3 linked regions of the Homo sapiens genome follow. The protein of the gene in region 3 purifies or fractionates together with the protein of the main gene of each other region. This does not show direct contact. Each region holds a gene or a part of one and is shown on either strand. Other genes may lie near its edges.

Region 1 (3,500 bases), on a different chromosome or scaffold from region 3:
AGGCTGGTCTTGAACTCCTAACCTCAGGTGATCCACCTGTCTCAGCCTCCCAAATTGTTGGGATTACAGGCATGAGCCAGTGCGCTTGGCCAATATTTTAAATCAAGAATTTTAAAAGTCTTTATATATTCCTTAAAATAGAGGATTGAGGAGATATTTAGTATAGTGTGAAAATGATTAACATTTGCTTCCTATCTCTAAATATCCTAAAATAGTATTGTTTAGTCTAACCCTTTTATTGGCAGGGTCTCACTGCAGTGGATGTCACTGATGATTCTAGTCTGATTGCTGGAGGTTTTGCAGATTCAACTGTCAGAGTGTGGTCGGTAACACCCAAAAAGCTTCGTAGTGTCAAACAAGCATCAGGTAACTGAGATGACCTTTTGGAATGTGAACTTGCCATTAGTCTATACCAATCTTGATTCCATGGAAAATACACAGGAGATTGTGTTCTTTACAGAAATTCACTTGATTTTACTTTAACTCAAGATTCTAACATTCCCAACAGTGAAAAAAGCTTTGGAGTGACTGGGGTGCTAGACTGGTTTAATTTCTTTAGGTCTCAGTTTTCTCATCTGTAGAATGAGTGAGTATTAAGCTAAAAAACTTAAAGTTAAAAATCTAACATTTTATGATTGCTTGTAAATCTTAAAAAATCTTTAAATAAGGGATGGTACTTCCTGTTTTAGTCATAAAAATGGCTAAAAAGAACAAATAAGGTCAGGATTTTATTTGAAAGTTTTTTACTTTTTGTTTTTTTGAGACAGAGTCTCGCCCTGTCACCCAGGCTAGAGTGCAATGGCGCAGTCTTGGCTCACTACAGCCTCTACCTCCCAGGTTCAAGGGATTTTCTTGTGTCAGCTCCCCAGCTCCCCAGTAGCTGGGATTACAGGTGCCCACCACCATGCCCAGGTAATTTTTGTATTTTTAGTAGAGATAGGGTTTCGCCATGTTGGCCAGGCTGGTCTCGAACTCCTGACCTCAAGTGATCCGCCTGTCTGGCCTCCCAAAGTGCTGGAATTATAGGTGGCTCACTGCAACCTCCACCTCCCTGGTTCAAGCGATTTTCCTGCCTCCACACCCGGCCTGAAATAAAGTTTTTTACTAACTATATTATTTAAATAAAACAATATATTTTAAATTATTTCAATATTTCCATAGGTTTTTTTTTTTTAATTTTAAATTTTTTTTAGATGGGGTCTCACTCTGTTGCCCAGGCTAGAATGCAGTGGTGTGATCACGGCTCACTGCAGCCTCTAATCCCTGGGCTGAAGTGATCCTCCCACTTCAGCCTCCTGAGTAGCTGAGACTACAGGTGTGTGCAACCACACTGGCTAATTTTTTATTTTTTGTAGAGACAGGGTTTCTCCATGTTGTCCAGGCTGGTCTCGAACTCCTCTGGGCTCAAGCAATCTGCCCGCCTTGGCCTACCAAAATTCTGAGACTACAGGTGTGAGCCACCATGCCTGGCCCATAGTTTTCATTTTGTGAAACACTGTGGCATAGTGGGCAAAACTGAGTTTCAGTTCTGGTTCCCACACTGAGTAGCTGTGTGCACTCTAGCAAATTATCTGTTCTGAACGTCATTTTCTTCTCTTACACGCTGAGATGATACTGCCTAATTTAGAGGGATTAGCAAAGTGCGGTTGGTATATAGGAGGAAATTTTCAAATGTTAATTCCTCTCCTGCACTGTGATATGATTACTTTAAAAGTTTTGATGAATGTACTTATAAAATATCAATATTTCTGGACCATTTTAGATCTTAGTCTTATAGACAAAGAATCAGATGATGTCTTAGAAAGAATCATGGATGAGAAAACAGCAAGTGAGTTGAAGATTTTGTATGGTCACAGTGGGCCTGTCTACGGAGCCAGCTTCAGTCCGGATAGGTAAAATACAAACAATAAAAATTAAATACTGCTATGTTATATTGAAATTATATAAAAGTTAACTACTGGAAACATTATGCAAATGCTGGGAAAATTCTGATAAAAATCTCATGGTTGTCTGACGTTCATCATCTTTTAGAATCTTGCCATTTGCTAATTCATCTTTGAATCCTGGTGTTTGTACATGGTAGCAATTTAATGTATACTCACTTTTTTTTTTTTTTTTTTGAGACAGAGTTTCGCTCTTGTTGCCCAGGTTGGAGTGCAATGGCGTGATCTTGGCTTACCGCAACCTCCGCCTCCTGGGTTCAAGCGATTCTCCTGGCTCAGCCTCCTGAGTAGCTGGGATTACAGGCATGCGCCACCACACCTGGCTAATTTTATTTTTTTATTAGAGATGGGGTTTCTCCATGTTGGTCAGGCTGGTCTTGAACTCTCAACCTCAGGTGATCTGCCCACCTCAGCCTCCCAAAGTGCTGGGATTACAGGCGTGAGCCACTGTGCCTGGCCTGTATACTCAAATTTATAGAATCAAAATGCACAGTTTCAGGGCTTACTGGTTTTAAAAATTAGCTTTAGTATTTCCCTTTTTTTTTTTTAATTATTTTTATTTGTTACCCAATGGTAAATAACCAACCAAAGCTTTAGTTTTATAGAACTCCATTAGGGGTTGAATTGCTTCATTGGGTCCCTGCATTGTGTCTTCTGGCTGCTTCATCAAATTTAAGACAAATTCCTGACATTAATGGCATATTAGCTAGTAATTGAGGATTAATCTTTCTATAATCAAAAGTACTAAGAGTAAATGAAAAAGGAAATTCAAAATTGGTTTGCTTCCCTTTAGGTGTATGATTACAATGTCATCCTATGTGTATAGGTATTTGCCTATTTTTCATGATCTCTAACACTGTAAAAATGGGTGGAGGGTGTTTTGTATTCATAATACCATCAGTATATTACTTGGATAGATAATAGCTTTCAGGCCGGGCACAGTGGCTCACGCCTATAATCCCAGCACTTTGGGAGTCCAAGACAGGCGCATCACCTGAGATCAGGAGTTTGAGACCAGCCTGGCCAACATGGGAAATCCTGTCTCCACTAAAAAGTACAAAAATTAGCAGGGTGTGGTGGCGCCCACCTGTAATCCTGGCTACTTGGGAGGCCGAGGCAGGAAAGTCACTTGAACATGGGAGGCAGAGGTTGCAATGAGCCGAGATTGCACCACTGCACTCCAGCCTGGGTGATAAGAGCAAAACTCCATCTCAAAAAAAGAAGAAAAGAAAAAAAGATAATAGCTTTCCATCCATCAAGGTTTCATCATTACGAAACTTTGAGAATTAGGTTTTTTGTTGCTTGATAAGGTTTTGCCAGATGATACATTTTTGAGGGAAACGTCTGATTTCAGTGAAAATTGTAATAACCTTCTGACTATCAATCTTTTGTGTTTATGCTTGAAAAAGGTAGAGAATTATTAGCATGTCTGTAGTTTTTTTTTCTTTTTCTTCAAAAGACATTTCCTTTTTAATTCTTACATAGCTTACACAGCATGGGAAAATAGCATCTTTATTTTAGGGTCAAAAATTGTTGAGTTTTAAGTGACATATCACA
Region 2 (3,500 bases), on a different chromosome or scaffold from region 3:
CACAGCTGAACCCTGGTACCCTCATCAGCCTTCCCCCGTGGCCCAGTACACACCCTCGGAATGTGCTCATGCAGGCCAGGCGCAGTGGCTCACACCTGTAATCCCAGCACTCTGGGAGGCAGAGGCAGGCGGAGCACTTGAGGTCAGGAGTTCGAGACCAACCTGGCCAACAAGGTGAAACCCCGTCACTACTAAAAATACAACAATTAGCTGGGTGTGGTGGTACATGCCTGTATTCCCAGCTGCTCGGGAGGCTGAGGCATGAGAATCACCTGATCCCGGGAGGCGGAGGTTGCAGTAAGCTGAGATTGCGCCACTGCACTCCAGCCTGGGTGATGGAGTGAGACTCTGTCTCGAAAAAAAAGAAAAAAACAAGAACGCGCTTATACAAATAGGCACAGTTGGCGAGAATAAATAGCCAACATCCACATGAACGAGGTCTAATTTCACTCAAAGAAATGCAACTTAAAACTAGACACGATTTTCTTCCTTTAGAATGGTATCCATTCCCAAAAGTCGTATTCTGGCAATGGTTTTAAAAGTGTAATCTGGTGGAAGGTGATATGTATCAAAGCCTTGAAAATGCTCAACCCACCAGACACACACACAGTTAGACATGAAGGCATTCACCTACAGGGGGCCACTTGTCGCCATCAGCACAGCACCCTGGCACAGGGGCCGTTACCAAATGCTGGAGCCTGAGACCACCGAGGGCCAAGGGAAAGTGCACCAGACACAGGACAAGGCAAAGCACAGACTTGGGTCACAGGAGAACTGTAATTACAGAAAAACACAGAAGCAGATATGCAGCAGACACAGGCTGAAGTGAGACACCCCGAAATTTTAGCAGTCTGGGCCAGGTGACGTTACAAGTGACTGTATTTTCTTCTTTACAGTTTACTTCCCAAACTTCCTATAATGAAAAAAAAACTAATTTTATCATCAAAAAAATCATGTTGAAGTAACTAATAATTTTTTACACTTACAGTTACATAAAAAAGCCAATCGAGCCTGCTTCCCGTGTCACCCTTGTTCCTGTCATGATGCTTCTGACACTGACATTCGTAACCTTCTGCAAAGCTCCAAAGCAAGGCAGGCCTGTGCGTTCTGGGCATGCTCTGAGCACCGTGCGTGGCTCCTATGAACACCACGGAGACCACGCTCCTCCGCAGAAGACACAGAACTTCCTTTAAAAACTTTCACAGGTCATTGTCCCACACACTTTACTGCAAAGTCAGAAAATGAAAGGCTGTGTCCCCCGACCCCATGGAACAAGGTGCCCACCTTGCCACCGGCAGCACCTCTGCCCACAGTGTCTGCAGCCCCCAGTGGACCAGCTGACCCACAAAGCCTCTGCCCCAGGTGTGCTTGGGCCACACCCAGCGCCCAGAGAAGGGTTCAGCTCCCTGGCTCCTAGTGTCCTGCCTTGTCCACGCACTGTCCACTCAGACCTCTGACCCCAACCCCGAAACAATTCCCTTGGGAGCCACAGACCTTCTTACTGCAGGGCCCTCATTCTAAAACCTAATGTCAAATTTGATAGACAGAAAAAACTGTTTCTGGGGTTTCCTGACTATTCGGAAATGGTCCCTCCAAGATCCATGTACCCCAACACCACCCTACCTGGCTACGCTCCTCTCACAACTTTGAGATCAAGATGCCACGTGTGCCTTCCTCACATCGGCGCTTTCCAGTGATGCCCAGTGGGGGACACAAAGGGCCCAGCAAGACCTCAGGAAGGACGGACACAGGCCTACACACCAGGCCACAGACAATGGGGCTCGGGGGGCCAACCTCAGCAAGACCTCAGGAAGGACGGACACAGGCCTACACACCAGGCCACAGACAATGGGGCTCGGGGGGCCAACCTCAGCAAGACCTCAGGAAGGACGGACACAGGCCTACACACCAGGCCACAGACAATGGGGCTCGGGGGGCCAACCTCAGCAAGACCTCAGGAAGGACGGACACAGGTCTACACACCAGGCCACAGACAATGGGGCTCGGGGGCCAACCTCAGCAAGACCTCAGGAAGGACGGACACAGGTCTACACACCAGGCCACAGACAATGGGGCTCGGGGGGCCAACCTCAGCAAGACCTCAGGAAGGACGGACACAGGCCTACACACCAGGCCACAGACAATGGGGCTCGGGGGCCAACCTCAGCAAGACCTCAGGAAGGACGGACACAGGTCTACACACCAGGCCACAGACAATGGGGCTCGGGGGCCAACCTCAGCAAGACCTCAGGAAGGACGGACACAGGTCTACACACCAGGCCACAGACAATGGGGCTCGGGGGGCCAACCTCAGCAAGACCTCAGGAAGGACGGACACAGGCCTACACACCAGGCCACAGACAATGGGGCTCGGGGGCCAACCTCAGCAAGACCTCAGGAAGGACGGACACAGGTCTACACACCAGGCCACAGACAATGGGGCTCGGGGGGCCAACCTCAGCAAGACCTCAGGAAGGACGGACACAGGTCTACACACCAGGCCACAGACAATGGGGCTCGGGGGGCCAACCTCAGCAAGACCTCAGGAAGGACGGACACAGGTCTACACACCAGGCCACAGACAATGGGGCTCGGGGGCCAACCTCAGCAAGACCTCAGGAAGGACGGACACAGGTCTACACACCAGGCCACAGACAATGGGGCTCGGGGGCCAACCTCAGCAAGACCTCAGGAAGGACGGACACAGGTCTACACACCAGGCCACAGACAATGGGGCTCGGGGGGCCAACCTCAGCAAGACCTCAGGAAGGACGGACACAGGCCTACACACCAGGCCACAGACAATGGGGCTCGGGGGGCCAACCTCAGCAAGACCTCAGGAAGGACGGACACAGGCCTACACACCAGGCCACAGACAATGGGGCTCGGGGGCCAACCTCAGCAAGACCTCAGGAAGGACGGACACAGGTCTACACACCAGGCCACAGACAATGGGGCTCGGGGGCCAACCTCAGCAAGACCTCAGGAAGGACGGACACAGGTCTACACACCAGGCCACAGACAATGGGGCTCGGGGGCCAACCTCAGCAAGACCTCAGGAAGGACGGACACAGGTCTACACACCAGGCCACAGACAATGGGGCTCGGGGGGCCAACCTCTCCAGTCCCCAAACACAGTCCCCAACAGACAACTTCTCCTGTCCCCACATGCGGCTCCCAACAAACAATTTCTCCTGCCCTCACACGCGGTTCCCAACGACAACTTCTGCTCCACAACATGACACCCACGGTGGGAGAAGCTGGGGGCACTTCACTACATCATCCTGCACACTGCAGCATGGCCTGCTCCAGGCAGAAGGCAGGCCTGGAGAAGAGCCTGGGACCACCGCGGACTGACCAACAGCGGACACCAGGTACTTTCTCAAATGGGAGAGGGGCCTCATGGTGGACAACATGTATCTCTTTGTTTTTCGAAAGCTGTACATCTTTGGTGCAAATGTTCATTTGAGATATGTAAAAATCAAAAGTTTTCACTCAAA
Region 3 (4,222 bases):
ACTGCTCTGGTGACACCTTAGCTCTGATCTCTTCTTCCGTTGGTAAACGAAAATCAGACTTAAGCACCCACCAGTTTGAATCCATCCCTGTGCGTTTGAAGTCAGCGCAGAGCTTTAGCCTCTTCCGGATGCTGCTTTCTGAATGGGAAGGAAAGGCTTTTTTTATATCTTCCATTCGTATCCTCCGTGGCCGATCTTTACTCTTCCAGAAAAGGCGGTAAATAAAAACCTGTAGAAAGTCTCGAATATGCATATTGGCCCTTCTGGAGTTAGGCCCAGGAACTTCAAACAAGGGACACTGCTGGCCAACCACAAAAATATCCACTAATTCCCGAATATAGTAACCCTGTCTTGTCCGAATGATCAGAAAATCAGTTTCTGGCATCTTATGAAGATACACTGGAGCACGAAAAAGGTTGTTCTCAAGTGCCTGCAGTAATTGGCCAGGATGGAGAGAGCCCAAGAAAGGAGATGTATGGCAGTAAACAGTTTCCCCATATTTACAATCTGGTGCTCCAGGATCTTTGCCAGGTTTCCGTTTATAATAGTTCTTTATCTTGGTTGCCATGCCAACCTGCATCATTAAGGGTCCATTTTCCTCACTATATTCTGCAAGAATAAGATCTCCATCTTTGCCTGTGAGATCCTGAGGTGTGCGCATAAAAAACAACTCTCCACCACCTGAGGCTTGCCTCTCTTGTTCTCTCATCTTGGCCTTTTTTTTGATGTGCTTTAGCAAAGGTTGGACTGAATGGGGACCTGGCTGAGAGAGTGCACCAAATGAGTACTTTTTCAGAGGTGGGCGATGGAACTGCCGGATTTTGATGGGCCCCATGTGGGTGGGAAAGAAGGGCTGCCATAATTCCATAGCAGGAATTGAATGCTGGATAATATTCCCTCCAAAGGTGCCCCGAAGACCCTGTTGCTTGGGGAAATAATACTCATCATTGGAGAGATTCCATGGATCTTTCACTTCTGGCTGAGACATGTTCTGCTGTGGTTCCTCCCTGATGACACCTGTTTTGCCCAAGAGAATTCGACTCTTCTTCAGAGATGATTCCTTCTTACTCTCCTTGGAGGGGGAGTTAGAGGTGGCCTCTTCCTTCTCATCAGGAATTTCCAAAATGAGGTTCTCATCATTGGGATCAAGTGCCAAAACAGGAGGTTCCAACAGCCGGGGCATGGCCTGAGCATCCCAAATGATATTGTCCTCCCAGCGTCCATACACCAGATCCTCATTGTCAATGGGAAAAATGGAGTACCAAGGTTTGTCATCATCCAGAGTGGGTGCAAAACCTTGCTGAACATTGTAAGCCATTACATTCCTAGTCTTAATAGAAGGAAGCCAGCCTGCCAGGCTTGCACCCTGAGGTTTTGTCCCTTTGTGTTTGATATCCTCCCCATCCCAGATGATAGAATCCTCCCAATGCAGCTGTGTCACCATCAGGAAGTTTTCGTCAGCCAGAAGATCAGTGCCATTGCTTTCCTCAAGTTTCCTAAATTCCTCCATCATTCTAGATTTTATCACAGGTTCATGTTGTGTCTTTCTCAGTTTGAAGCCATAGTCAAACCCACTGCCATCTTCGGAGACACCCAGCATATCATACCACAGTCGGGCAGGCCCATAACGCCACTCAGCCACTCTTGGTTTGGTATCTGTCACTTTATCTACATCTCCAGTTGATTGGGAAAATTTGGACTCCACAGGAACCATCATCGTGATTTCATCATCAGCGAGACACTGCTCTGGGGGTGGTGGTGGAGCATAGTCATAGTTCCACAAAGACTTCTGGCTGACTTCTGATTCTACTGAGCATTCCACCTCCTGGATCTGCTCTTCCTGTATCAGCTCACGATGCTTCTTCCTCTTTCTCCGAGCACTCCGCCAAACAGATGGGACATTCTTCCCTGGTCCAAAAAGATGTAGGAAGCGTAACACTTTTCCAGGTCGAAATTCTGGAAAAAGTTCGGTGACACTTGGCAACAGCTTGGTGGCATCATGCTGCATAATCCCAGCCAATGGAAGGGTCAGCTTTCCATCCTCAGATTCTGCCTGTGTTGCTTCCTGAGGTCCCATCTCAGATTCTGAATCAGAGTAACTACTGAAATCCACTTTCTCTGAGGCCAAAAAGGAAGGGGCAATGATGGAGGGCAAGATGATGTCTTCTCCACTTTCAGACACACAGGTAATAGCATCTTGGTCCTTATCCTTCTTCATTGGTCCCGGGGGTGGAGGTGGAGGAGGCATCAACTTGCAATCAATGTCTTCACAATCAGCATCATAGTCATCTTCATCATAATCCGAGTGGTAAAGGGGCTGCAAGCTCCCCATCGTCTGCTGGTGTCTTTGGCTTTCATCTTCTGCCACCTCATTGATGTCTGAATAGTCTACAGCATCTTCTGTACTCCTAATCCACCCTTCATCATTTACCAAGGCACCGCCAGTCCCAGTCAATTCTTCATTTGCCGTGAGTTCAGTGATTAGGCTGCCCAGCCCCAAAGCCCCCAAGCCTGCCAAGTGCTTCTTACACTCATCATCCAAGACGCTTTCCCCCTCCAGCTGCCCCGCTCCACTGATGTTGCCGAAAAGGATACCCGCTAAAGTAAATGGGCCACCTCCAGATGAATCTTCCTCGCTGTCCGAGTCTGACATGATGGCGGCAGTGACGGTAGCTGCTGCCCTCAGCAGCAAATCGCAGCCGGGTCGCATAAACCGGAAATAAAACAACAGTCGCCCGGAAGTGATCTACTTAGCTCCCTTACCCTACCAGCGTCTACCGGAAGCTGAATAAAGGCGGGGGGAGGGGGCAAAGGGGCGGGGGGAAAAACCCGCAAAACTTTTTTTTTTTTTTTTTTTTGAGACGGAGTCTCGCAACGTCGCCCAGGCTGGAGTGCAGTGGCGCGATCTTGGCTCACTGCAAGCTCTGCCTTCTGGGTTCACGCCATTCTCCTGCCTCAGCCTCCTGAGTAGCTGGGACTACAGGCGCTCGCCACCACGCCTGGCTAATTTTTTTTTTTTTGTATTTTCAGTAGAGACGGGGTTTCACCATGTTAGCCTCTCGATCTCCTGACCTCGTGAACCGCCTGCCTCGGCCTCCCAAAGTGCTGGGATTACAGGCGTAAGCCACCGCGCCCAGCCTGTTTGCTGGTTTTTGAGACAAAGTCTTGCTCTGTCGCCCCAGGCTGGCGTGCAGTGGCACAATCTCGGCTCACTGAAACCTCCACCTCAGGAGTTCAAGAGATTCCTGCCTCAGCCTCCACAGTAGCTGGGATTACAGGCATGAGCCACCATGCCTGGCTAATTTTTTGTATTTTTAGTGGAGACAAGATTTCACCATATTGGCCAGGCTAGTCTTAAACTCCTGACCTCAGATGGTCAGCCCGTCTCTGTCTCCGAAAGTGCTGGGATTACAGGCGTGAGCCACTGCACCCAGCCTCTGTAAATCTCTTTATACATGAACTGCATATGTATGCTTCTCCAAATAATCTATAGCATTGTCATGCTTTACAATTTTGTATAAAAGGCATCTTACTGTGTGTACTCGTTTTTTTTTTCCCCCTTCCTTTTTTTTAAGAGATGGGATCTCACTATGTTAGCCAAGCTGGTCTTAAACTCCTCCTGGCCTCAAGCAATCCTCCCACTTTGGCCTCCCAAAGTGCTGAGATTACAGGCAAGAGCCACCAAACCCGACCTTACTGTATGTACTCTTAGCCAGAATGTTTTCTGGATAAAATTTATGTTTATGATATTCAACTATGTTGATGCATTCAATTCTATTTTTATAGCTCTATAGTGTTCTACAGTATGGTTATGCTACAATTTATCTATGTTCCTATGTTTGTTCATTTAAATTGTTCCCAAATTGTTCCTCTTATAAATAATGTATATGATTCCTTGAGCATATGTAGGACACATTCTCCAGGGTATACATCTAGGAGTGGAATTACTAGATTTTACAATATATGCTTTTTCAACTACACTTGCTATTACTAAATTGTTCTCCAAAGTAGTTGTACCATTTTACATACCTAACAGCAGTGTATAAAAGTTCTCACCTCTCCACATCCATTCTAACACTTAGCATTGTCATTTGTTAATTTTTGTTCATTTCTAATAAATGTATAATGATAATGTGGTTTTAATTTGTATTTTTCTGATTGCTACTGAAGGCTAACTTTTCATACACTTATTGACCAACTGTTTTTCCTCTTCTGTCAATTG

The links. Proteins that work in one complex are often made in the same cells at the same time.
Region 1: the proteins of TAF1L (region 3) and TAF5 fractionate together in Homo sapiens (co-fractionation; one large-scale study listed by BioGRID). This does not show direct contact.
Region 2: the proteins of TAF1L (region 3) and TAF4 fractionate together in Homo sapiens (co-fractionation; one large-scale study listed by BioGRID). This does not show direct contact.

The regions. Positions count from the first base shown.
Region 1 is NC_000010.11:103,381,476-103,384,975, forward strand, and holds part of TAF5 (transcription initiation factor TFIID subunit 5), read left to right. Parts: intron 1-245; coding exon 246-366; intron 367-1,762; coding exon 1,763-1,892; intron 1,893-3,500. UniProt on the Homo sapiens protein: The TFIID basal transcription factor complex plays a major role in the initiation of RNA polymerase II (Pol II)-dependent transcription.
Region 2 is NC_000020.11:62,055,882-62,059,381, forward strand, and holds part of TAF4 (transcription initiation factor TFIID subunit 4), read right to left. Parts: intron 1-3,500. UniProt on the Homo sapiens protein: The TFIID basal transcription factor complex plays a major role in the initiation of RNA polymerase II (Pol II)-dependent transcription.
Region 3 is NC_000009.12:32,632,870-32,637,091, forward strand, and holds the start of TAF1L (transcription initiation factor TFIID subunit 1-like), read right to left. Parts: upstream 2,801-4,222; 5' UTR 2,711-2,800; coding exon 1-2,710. UniProt on the Homo sapiens protein: May act as a functional substitute for TAF1/TAFII250 during male meiosis, when sex chromosomes are transcriptionally silenced.